Homo sapiens: one gene and its partner. The protein of the gene in region 2 interacts with the protein of the main gene of each other region in a pairwise test. Each region holds a gene or a part of one and is shown on either strand. Other genes may lie near its edges.

Region 1 (3,747 bases), on a different chromosome or scaffold from region 2:
ATGTGATATTTGCTTTCCTAAGAGATGTCAATGCATATACCATATATCACACAATCTTAGATGAACATGTATTTCACATCTAACATCTTGGAATGCAAGAGGCATTTTACAATCTATAGTATCCTTTGATTAAAATTGGCAAGATTCTTGAGATTCTTTCTCTGGCACTGGAGCACAGACAGCTCCTTACAATCTAGCACATTTTAGAGTTCATGTAATATAGCATTCTTTACTATAACAAGTGACATATAACAAGGAAGTTGCAGGCCACCTTTTCCTATGCTTAGTAACAATTTAAATCGCAGGACATTGTTTCTGGAAAACTAAAAGGATGTGTCAATAAAAACATCTGGCCCTGGGGCTGGGGGCTGAAAGGAGGAGGAGATAATTATTTCTTGGGAATCTTCTCACCTATTCATATATCTATCTGTGACTCAAGATTTCTTGTGTCAATTTAGAGAATTTGTATTTTTTGGAAAATCACACATTTCATTGTACTGTTAAAATGCATTTGCTTCCTAAAATGTATTTCTGGTCTAGCCTGGAGATTATGACCTTGGGCAGTGAGGCTGACAGACCTGGACCCCTGCAAGTCACCTAAGGTGTCTGAATCCCATTTTCCGCATTATAAGAGGAGACATGATCACTTCCCTTATATGGGCTCCTTAACAAAAGGCTGGAAAAGAATTTGGCCGCCTACTTAACGGGCATTATATGCTAAATAATGTTGGCTTATAGTGAAGATTGTCCCGTGAAGCCAAGGCGTGGCTAGGGTAGGGAATGGGGCCATTCTCGGGGTGAGTGGTCCTGGGTCCGAACCCAAACCACAAACGGGAAGACTCGAGCCCAAGGTCACACCCCAACCAGGGAAAAGACGGCAGGCCCAACCTGGAGGCCCTCTCCCCAAAAGCGTCCCCAACTCACCGTGCAAGTGGGCTGAGAGGACTGCTCGGAGGCCACACGCAGGCCGTTGTCCAGCAGGCTAACCTGCGTCTCCGGCACGAACTGGAGCGCCTGAGCGAAGGTTGCCGTACTCCGCAAGGCTGGCGTCCGCAGCAGGGCCGGCTGTGGAAGGGAACAGCCGCGAGTGAGGACTCGGTCAGGGGATCGCTCCCCACCTCCCAGGTCCTCAGGAGGACCCCCGAACCCCGCCCCTAGGCAAGCGGCGAGATACCTTTCCCCGCCCTCCGCCGTGACCTTCCCACGGCCCTGACCCCGCGTCCTCCCCACCTCGACCTGCCACTGCTAACAGCCCACACCTGTCCGCTTCCCGAAGCCCTGTCCCGAAGCCCCGCGCTCTCGCCACCACCTCACCGAGCGGCGGGCGCGCAATAGCACTTGTGCCCCGGCGGTAGCGGCCCGACAGACCACGGACGCCGCCATCTTCCAGCTGCAGTCGGCCCTGTTGCGCCGCGCAAGCGTAGACTGGGCGCGTTGGCGGTCGCGGCGCAGGCGCAGTACCGTACAGTTGGTGCTCGGCCGCCTCCTGGCGGGAACCGGGACAGTCTATTGTGCTGGCCTGGCTTTGGCTGACTGGCTCTGACCGCGCTGCCGCCAGTCCCTGCGCACATCAGTCCACCTGCCGTCCATCAGCCCGAGCAGGTCCGCCCGCCGTGCAGTCCATCTCCCCATTCCACGCGTGGAAGTCAGAGTGCATTATGTTTCTCACCAGCCGCGCTGCGTACTGAGGTCTGGCGGGCGGGGAGTTGCAGCCACAGCGTGTCCGCAGGTTCGAGCCCAGGGCTAAAGTACCAGCGTGGAAACTTACCTGGGACCACAAGTTGGTGCTGAAAGTCAGTATTTTTTTCTCTTTATTTATTTTTTATTTTCTGAGACAGGGTCTCGCTCTGTCGCCCAGGCTGGAGTGCAATGGCGCGATCTCGGCTCACTGCAACCTCCGCCTCCCGGCTTCAAGCGATTCTCCTGCCTCAGCCTCCCGAGTAGCTGGGATTATGCCCGGTAATTTTTGTTTCTTTAGAAGAGACAAGGTTTCTCCATGTTGGCCAGTTTTGCGCCCTGCCAGTTTTCTCTTTAAAAGAACTAAGTACAGGCCGGGAGCGGTGGCTCACTCCTGTAATCCCAACACTTTGGGAGGCCGAGGCAGGTGGATCACTTGAGGCGAGGAGTCCAAGACCAGCCTGGCCAACATGGTGAAACCTTTCCTTTTCTGTAAGAGGAAAAAGAATTCTGGCTGGGTGCAGTGGCTCATGCCTGTAATCCCAGCACTTTGGAAGGCCGAGGTGGGCGGATCACCTGAGGTCGGGAATTTGAGACCAGCCTGACCGACATGGAGAAACCCCGTCTCTACTAAAAATACAAAAGTAGACGGGCGTGGTGGCGCATGCCTGTAATCCTAGCTACTCCAGAGGCTGAGGCAGGAGAATCACTTGAACCCGGGAGGCGGAGGTTGCGGTGAGCCGAGATCGCGCCATTTCCAGCCTGGGCAACAAGAGCGAAACTCCGTCTCAAAAAAAAAAAAAAAAAAAAAAAAAGACTTCTAAGGTATGCTTTGTTATGTCAACTAAAGAAAAAAAAAAACAAGCTTTTAAATATTTAAAGTTAGTTCTATTCAGAAGTCTTACCAAGAATTGCAACCCGGGAGAGCCTTTCAGGGAGTTTCTGCTAGACTGCTCCAAAGCAGTGTTTCCGACAGTTTATACACTGGTGGTGGCGGCTCTCCATGTGCTCAGAAATTACATCAAATGTGCTCAGAAGTTACATTAGAGCATAAATCTCATCAAGGTTTGGGTGCAAGAGTACATCTGTTTATAGGTCACAGAAGCATAATCATTAATCCTGTCAGACAGTATCTTAAGTACAGGAAGAGGCAAGGGCTAGGATCATTGCATTTTTTACCATGTTGGCCAGGCTGATATCAAACTCCTGGCCTCAAGCAATCCACCCACCTCAGCCTCCCAAAGTGCTAGGATTACAGGGGTGAGCCACCACACCTTACCCAAAAACTACTCTTATACTTAAAATAAAACTATCTTTATAAAAATCATGCCAGATGCCATGACCACAGGCTCTCACACCACACCCAGCTAATTTTTTTTTATTTTTTGTGGAGACGGGGGTCTCATTATGTTGCCCAGGCTGATCTTAAACTCCTGAGCTCAAGTGATCCTCCTACCTCAGCCTCCCAAAGTGCTGGGATTACAGTCATGAGCCACCGTGCCAGGCTGACTTTATTTCTTATAAAGGGTTACAACCTGCAGGCTGGGAGGTGGGCTTCTGGTCAAAACCAGAGACAGACCCTTAAAAAGAGGCAGGAGCTTTATGTCGAATGGCTTGGCTAAACATACATATTCGGCCGGGCACGGTGGCTCACACCTGTAATCCCAAACTTTGGGAGGCCGAGGTGGGCGGATCACAAGGTCAGGAGATTGAGACCATCCTGGCTAACATGGTGAAACCCCGTCTCTACTAAAAATACAAAAAATCTGCCAGGCATGATGGCATGTGCCTATAATCCCAGCTACTCGGGAAGCTGAGGCAGAAGAATCGCTTGAACCTGGGAGGCGGAGGTTGCAGTGAGCCGAGATCGCGCCACTGCACTCCAGCCTGGGTGACAGAGCGAGACTCTGTCTCAAAAAAGAAAAAACAAAAACAAAAAATACCATATTCAACAGGTTACAGGAAGAGCTATAGATACTCATGAAGGGGGTCCTAATGCAAGTATACTGAATAAACATGTGTGTTGTATATGACCCATGTTCACTTTGGGGTGGAGACTTAACATTGAAA
Region 2 (3,747 bases):
AGGGAAGAAAGCTGATTGCAACTGAGAGGTCATTTCTGCCCATGGTCGCATGAGAGATAGGTACAAGACATATCTCGTATCTCTTTCAGACACCACCTCTTGTATCCATGCAAGCCGAGGCTCCTATTTCTCATACCACCTCTTCCATGCAGCCCCCAGGTATTAGGGCCTCCTGTGTTTTAATTTTGTCCCATCCTCTCTGGAAGGTAGGAGGGAGATGCAGCCGTGAAGGATCATGGGCACTTCGTAAAAGCACTGAGCTTCCAGGCTGATGCAGGTCTAAGGCTGCCTTCTTTGCTGAACTGGAAAGGGTGATGCCCTGTGAAAGCTTATGGTCTGTCTGTGTACACAAAGAGCAGGTATCAGGCAGCAATAGGAGTGGGACCATGGCTGTAAATGCTCTGTGAGCACTGAGAAGGGAGGCGAGTTCTGAGGGGATGGGGTGGCCTTTAGAACGGGCATGGTGGCTCATGCCTATAATCCCAGCACTTTGGGAGGCTGAAGCAGGAGGATTGCTTGAGCCCGGGAGTTCACAACCAGCCTGGGCAACATAGCAAGACCCCATCTCTTAAAAATTATTTTTTTGTTTGTTAATTAGCTGGGTGTGATAGCATGCATCTATCTGTAGCCCTAGCTACTCAGGTGGCTAAGGCTGGAGGGTCCCTTGAGTCCAGGAGTTGAAGGCAGCAGTAAGCTATGATAACACCACTGTACTCCAGCCTGGGTGACAAAATGAGACCCCCATCTTTTAAAAAAAAAATTATTAGCCAGGCATGGTGGCGCTCACCTGTAGTCCCAGGTGCTTGGGAGGCTGAAGCAGGAGGATCGCTTGAACCCAGGAGGTCAAGGCTGCAATGAGCTGAGATTACGCCATTGCATTCCAGCCTGGGTGACAAAGTGAGACTCTGTCTCAAAATAAATAAATAAAATTTAAAAATTAAAAGAATTTACCTTCCTCATCCTCAAGAAAGTGTAGAAGTCAGATTTGGATGAAATCTATTGTCAGGGATTGGGGTTCTGGAAAGCTTCGCAGGGATGATGTTGCCCAGCCCAATTAGGGTGGTCTGGACAGATGTGCAAAGGCTGGAGACCTGCAAGAATGCAGCCTGTTGGGAAAGTATGTGTAGTTAGTCCTAAGGTCCAAGACTAGATCAAGAGGAAGTATAGACGCGAGAGTCGTGGGATCCCGGGCACATCGGCTGTGTTGAGTGTGGCGTGTGCCTCATGGGCTCCAGGGGAAGGAAGAAGAACACTTTGGCCAGAAATGCTCTCCTCCCCCATCCCACTCAAACCACTGAGTCTGGAGACGTGCTAAGTGTTGTTGGTTGTGGGCACCTTTAGTGATAACACCCTCCCCCTCTCCCCTCGCAGTGACCCAACAGGAGAAGACCCCACCGCCTAGACCCAGCCCGCTAGAGGCAGGCAGTGATGGCTGTGAGGAGCCGAAGCAGCAGGTGTCTTGGGAGCAGGAGTTCCTGGTGGGCAGCAGCCCAGGAGGCAGCGGGCGGGCACTGTGCATGGTGTGTGGCGCTGAGATCCGGGCACCCTCGGCCGACACAGCTCGCTCGCACATCTTGGAGCAGCACCCTCACACCTTGGACCTGAGCCCTTCTGAGAAGAGCAATATCCTGGAGGCCTGGAGTGAAGGGGTGGCCCTCTTGCAAGACGTGAGAGCTGAGCAGCCGTCCCCACCCAACTCAGGTAGTTGGTCCTGGGGCTGGCGAAGGGAGAAGTCGGACTTGTTGGGGCACTAGAAGCTCATTGTGCTCTTGCTCCCTGCAGACTCGGGCCAGGATGCCCACCCAGACCCAGACGCCAACCCAGACGCTGCCAGAATGCCAGCCGAAATCGTCGTTCTCCTTGACTCTGAGGATAACCCATCCCTCCCTAAAAGGAGCCGGCCCAGGGGACTCCGCCCCCTCGAGCTTCCTGGTTAGTCAACAGAGAAGCCAGTGAGCCCCGGTGGAGGTGGGGGTTTGGGGACAGGGTGAAATACAGGCCCTGTGTTCTGGGCAGGTATCTTCAGGAGCCCTGGGGTGGCAGGGTTCGGGGATGGCCTCTTTAAAAGGGTATGAGGTCTTTTCTTTTTGCAGCTGTCCCTGCCACAGAGCCAGGAAATAAGAAGCCCCGTGGTCAGAGATGGAAGGAACCCCCAGGGGAAGAGCCAGTCAGAAAGAAAAGAGGCAGACCTATGACCAAAAACCTGGACCCTGACCCAGGTGAAGGGGAGGCCCGGGGGAGGCGTGGGCTCTGGCCGCAGTGCTCTGAGGAAATCCGCATCAGTGAGGATGGAGCAGGGCCTGGGCGCAGGGCGCCTGCAGCTCCTGAGGCTTTTTCACTCACAGTTCCATCCCGTCCTCCCTTCCAGAGCCCCCATCGCCAGACTCGCCCACGGAGACTTTCGCAGCACCAGCCGAGGTCCGACACTTCACTGACGGCAGCTTCCCCGCCGGCTTCGTCTTGCAGCTCTTCTCCCACACCCAGCTCAGGGGCCCAGACAGCAAGGACTCACCCAAAGACAGGGAAGTGGCAGAAGGAGGCCTTCCCCGGGCGGAGAGCCCCTCTCCAGGTGAGCCCTCCTGAGAGGGAAGCACAGTAGGGACCTCGCAGGCAGCGCTCCTGGGCCAGGCCTCAGAGAGGCTGCTCTATGGCAGAGCCCACAGTAGGGGTGGGTGGGGTGGGTGGGGTGGGTGGTGCTCAGGTTTCCTGGTACACGGGGCCGGGGCAGGGGATCTGAATGATGAGGAAGGCTGGCCTGAAAGCTGAGCTTTTCTTTTTCTGTTTGTTTGTTTTTTGAGACGGAATCTTGCTCTGTTGCCCAGGCTGGCATGTAGTAGCACAAGCCCGGCTCACTACAACCTCTGCCTCCCAGGTTCAAGCAATTCTCCTGCCTCACCCTCCCTAGTAGCTGGGATTACAGGCGTGCGCCACCATACCCGGCTAATTTTTGTATTTTTAGTAGAGACAGGGTTTTCCCATGTTGGCCAGGTTGGTCTCAAACTCTTGACCTCAGGTGATCCAACTGCCTTGGCCTCGCAAAGTACACCACGCCTGGCCTATTTTTTTATTTTTTATTTTTTGAGACAAGAGTCTTGCTCTGTCGCCCAGGCTGGAGTGCAGTGGCGCGATCTCGGTTCAGTGCATCCTCTGCTTCCCAGGTTCAAGCGATTCTCCTGCCTCACCCTCCTGAGTAGCTGGGATTACAGGCGTGTGCCACCATGCCCAGCTAATTTTTGTATTTTTAGTAGAGACAGGGTTTCGCCATGTTGGCCAGGCTGGTCTCGAACTCCTGACCTCAGGTGATCCACCTGCCTCAGCCTCCCAAACTGCTAGGATTACAGGCGTGAGCCACCGCACCTGACCAGGTGGGCTTTTCTTAGTGTTTCCTTGTTTCCTGGAATTGGTCACTGGGTCCGGGTAGGCCAGTGTTTCCCAGAAGCCTGATACTGATTTCCACACATGCAGTTTGTTCTAGCTAGAGCCTGAGGGGTGCCCACCTTACCCTGGTGGAGCTGAGGCCCAGATGGGGCCACTCAGCAATTCAGTTAGGTGTCCAGAGAATAGATAAGATGAGCAGTGGACAGACACCTCCAGGGGACACCAGCTCAGTAAATTGCCTCATAACAGCAGTAAGTGCTTGTGTTGTTTGGGCTCCTACTGAGTTTAAGAAGCTTACATACAAGGCAAGTCGTGGTGGCTCACGCCTGTAATCCCAGCACTTTGGCAGGCTGAGGCGGGCAGATCACC

Evidence for each region. The genes of interacting proteins can lie anywhere in the genome.
Region 1: the proteins of SPINDOC (region 2) and UQCRC1 interact in binary tests that used the Homo sapiens proteins (3 or more experiments, as listed by UniProt).

The regions. Positions count from the first base shown.
Region 1 is NC_000003.12:48,608,238-48,611,984, forward strand, and holds the start of UQCRC1 (cytochrome b-c1 complex subunit 1, mitochondrial precursor), read right to left. Parts: upstream 1,410-3,747; 5' UTR 1,384-1,409; coding exon 1,315-1,383; intron 1,066-1,314; coding exon 925-1,065; intron 1-924. UniProt on the Homo sapiens protein: Component of the ubiquinol-cytochrome c oxidoreductase, a multisubunit transmembrane complex that is part of the mitochondrial electron transport chain which drives oxidative phosphorylation.
Region 2 is NC_000011.10:63,816,434-63,820,180, forward strand, and holds part of SPINDOC (spindlin interactor and repressor of chromatin-binding protein), read left to right. Parts: intron 1-1,371; coding exon 1,372-1,701; intron 1,702-1,782; coding exon 1,783-1,932; intron 1,933-2,093; coding exon 2,094-2,219; intron 2,220-2,368; coding exon 2,369-2,569; intron 2,570-3,747. UniProt on the Homo sapiens protein: Chromatin protein that stabilizes SPIN1 and enhances its association with histone H3 trimethylated at both 'Lys-4' and 'Lys-9' (H3K4me3K9me3).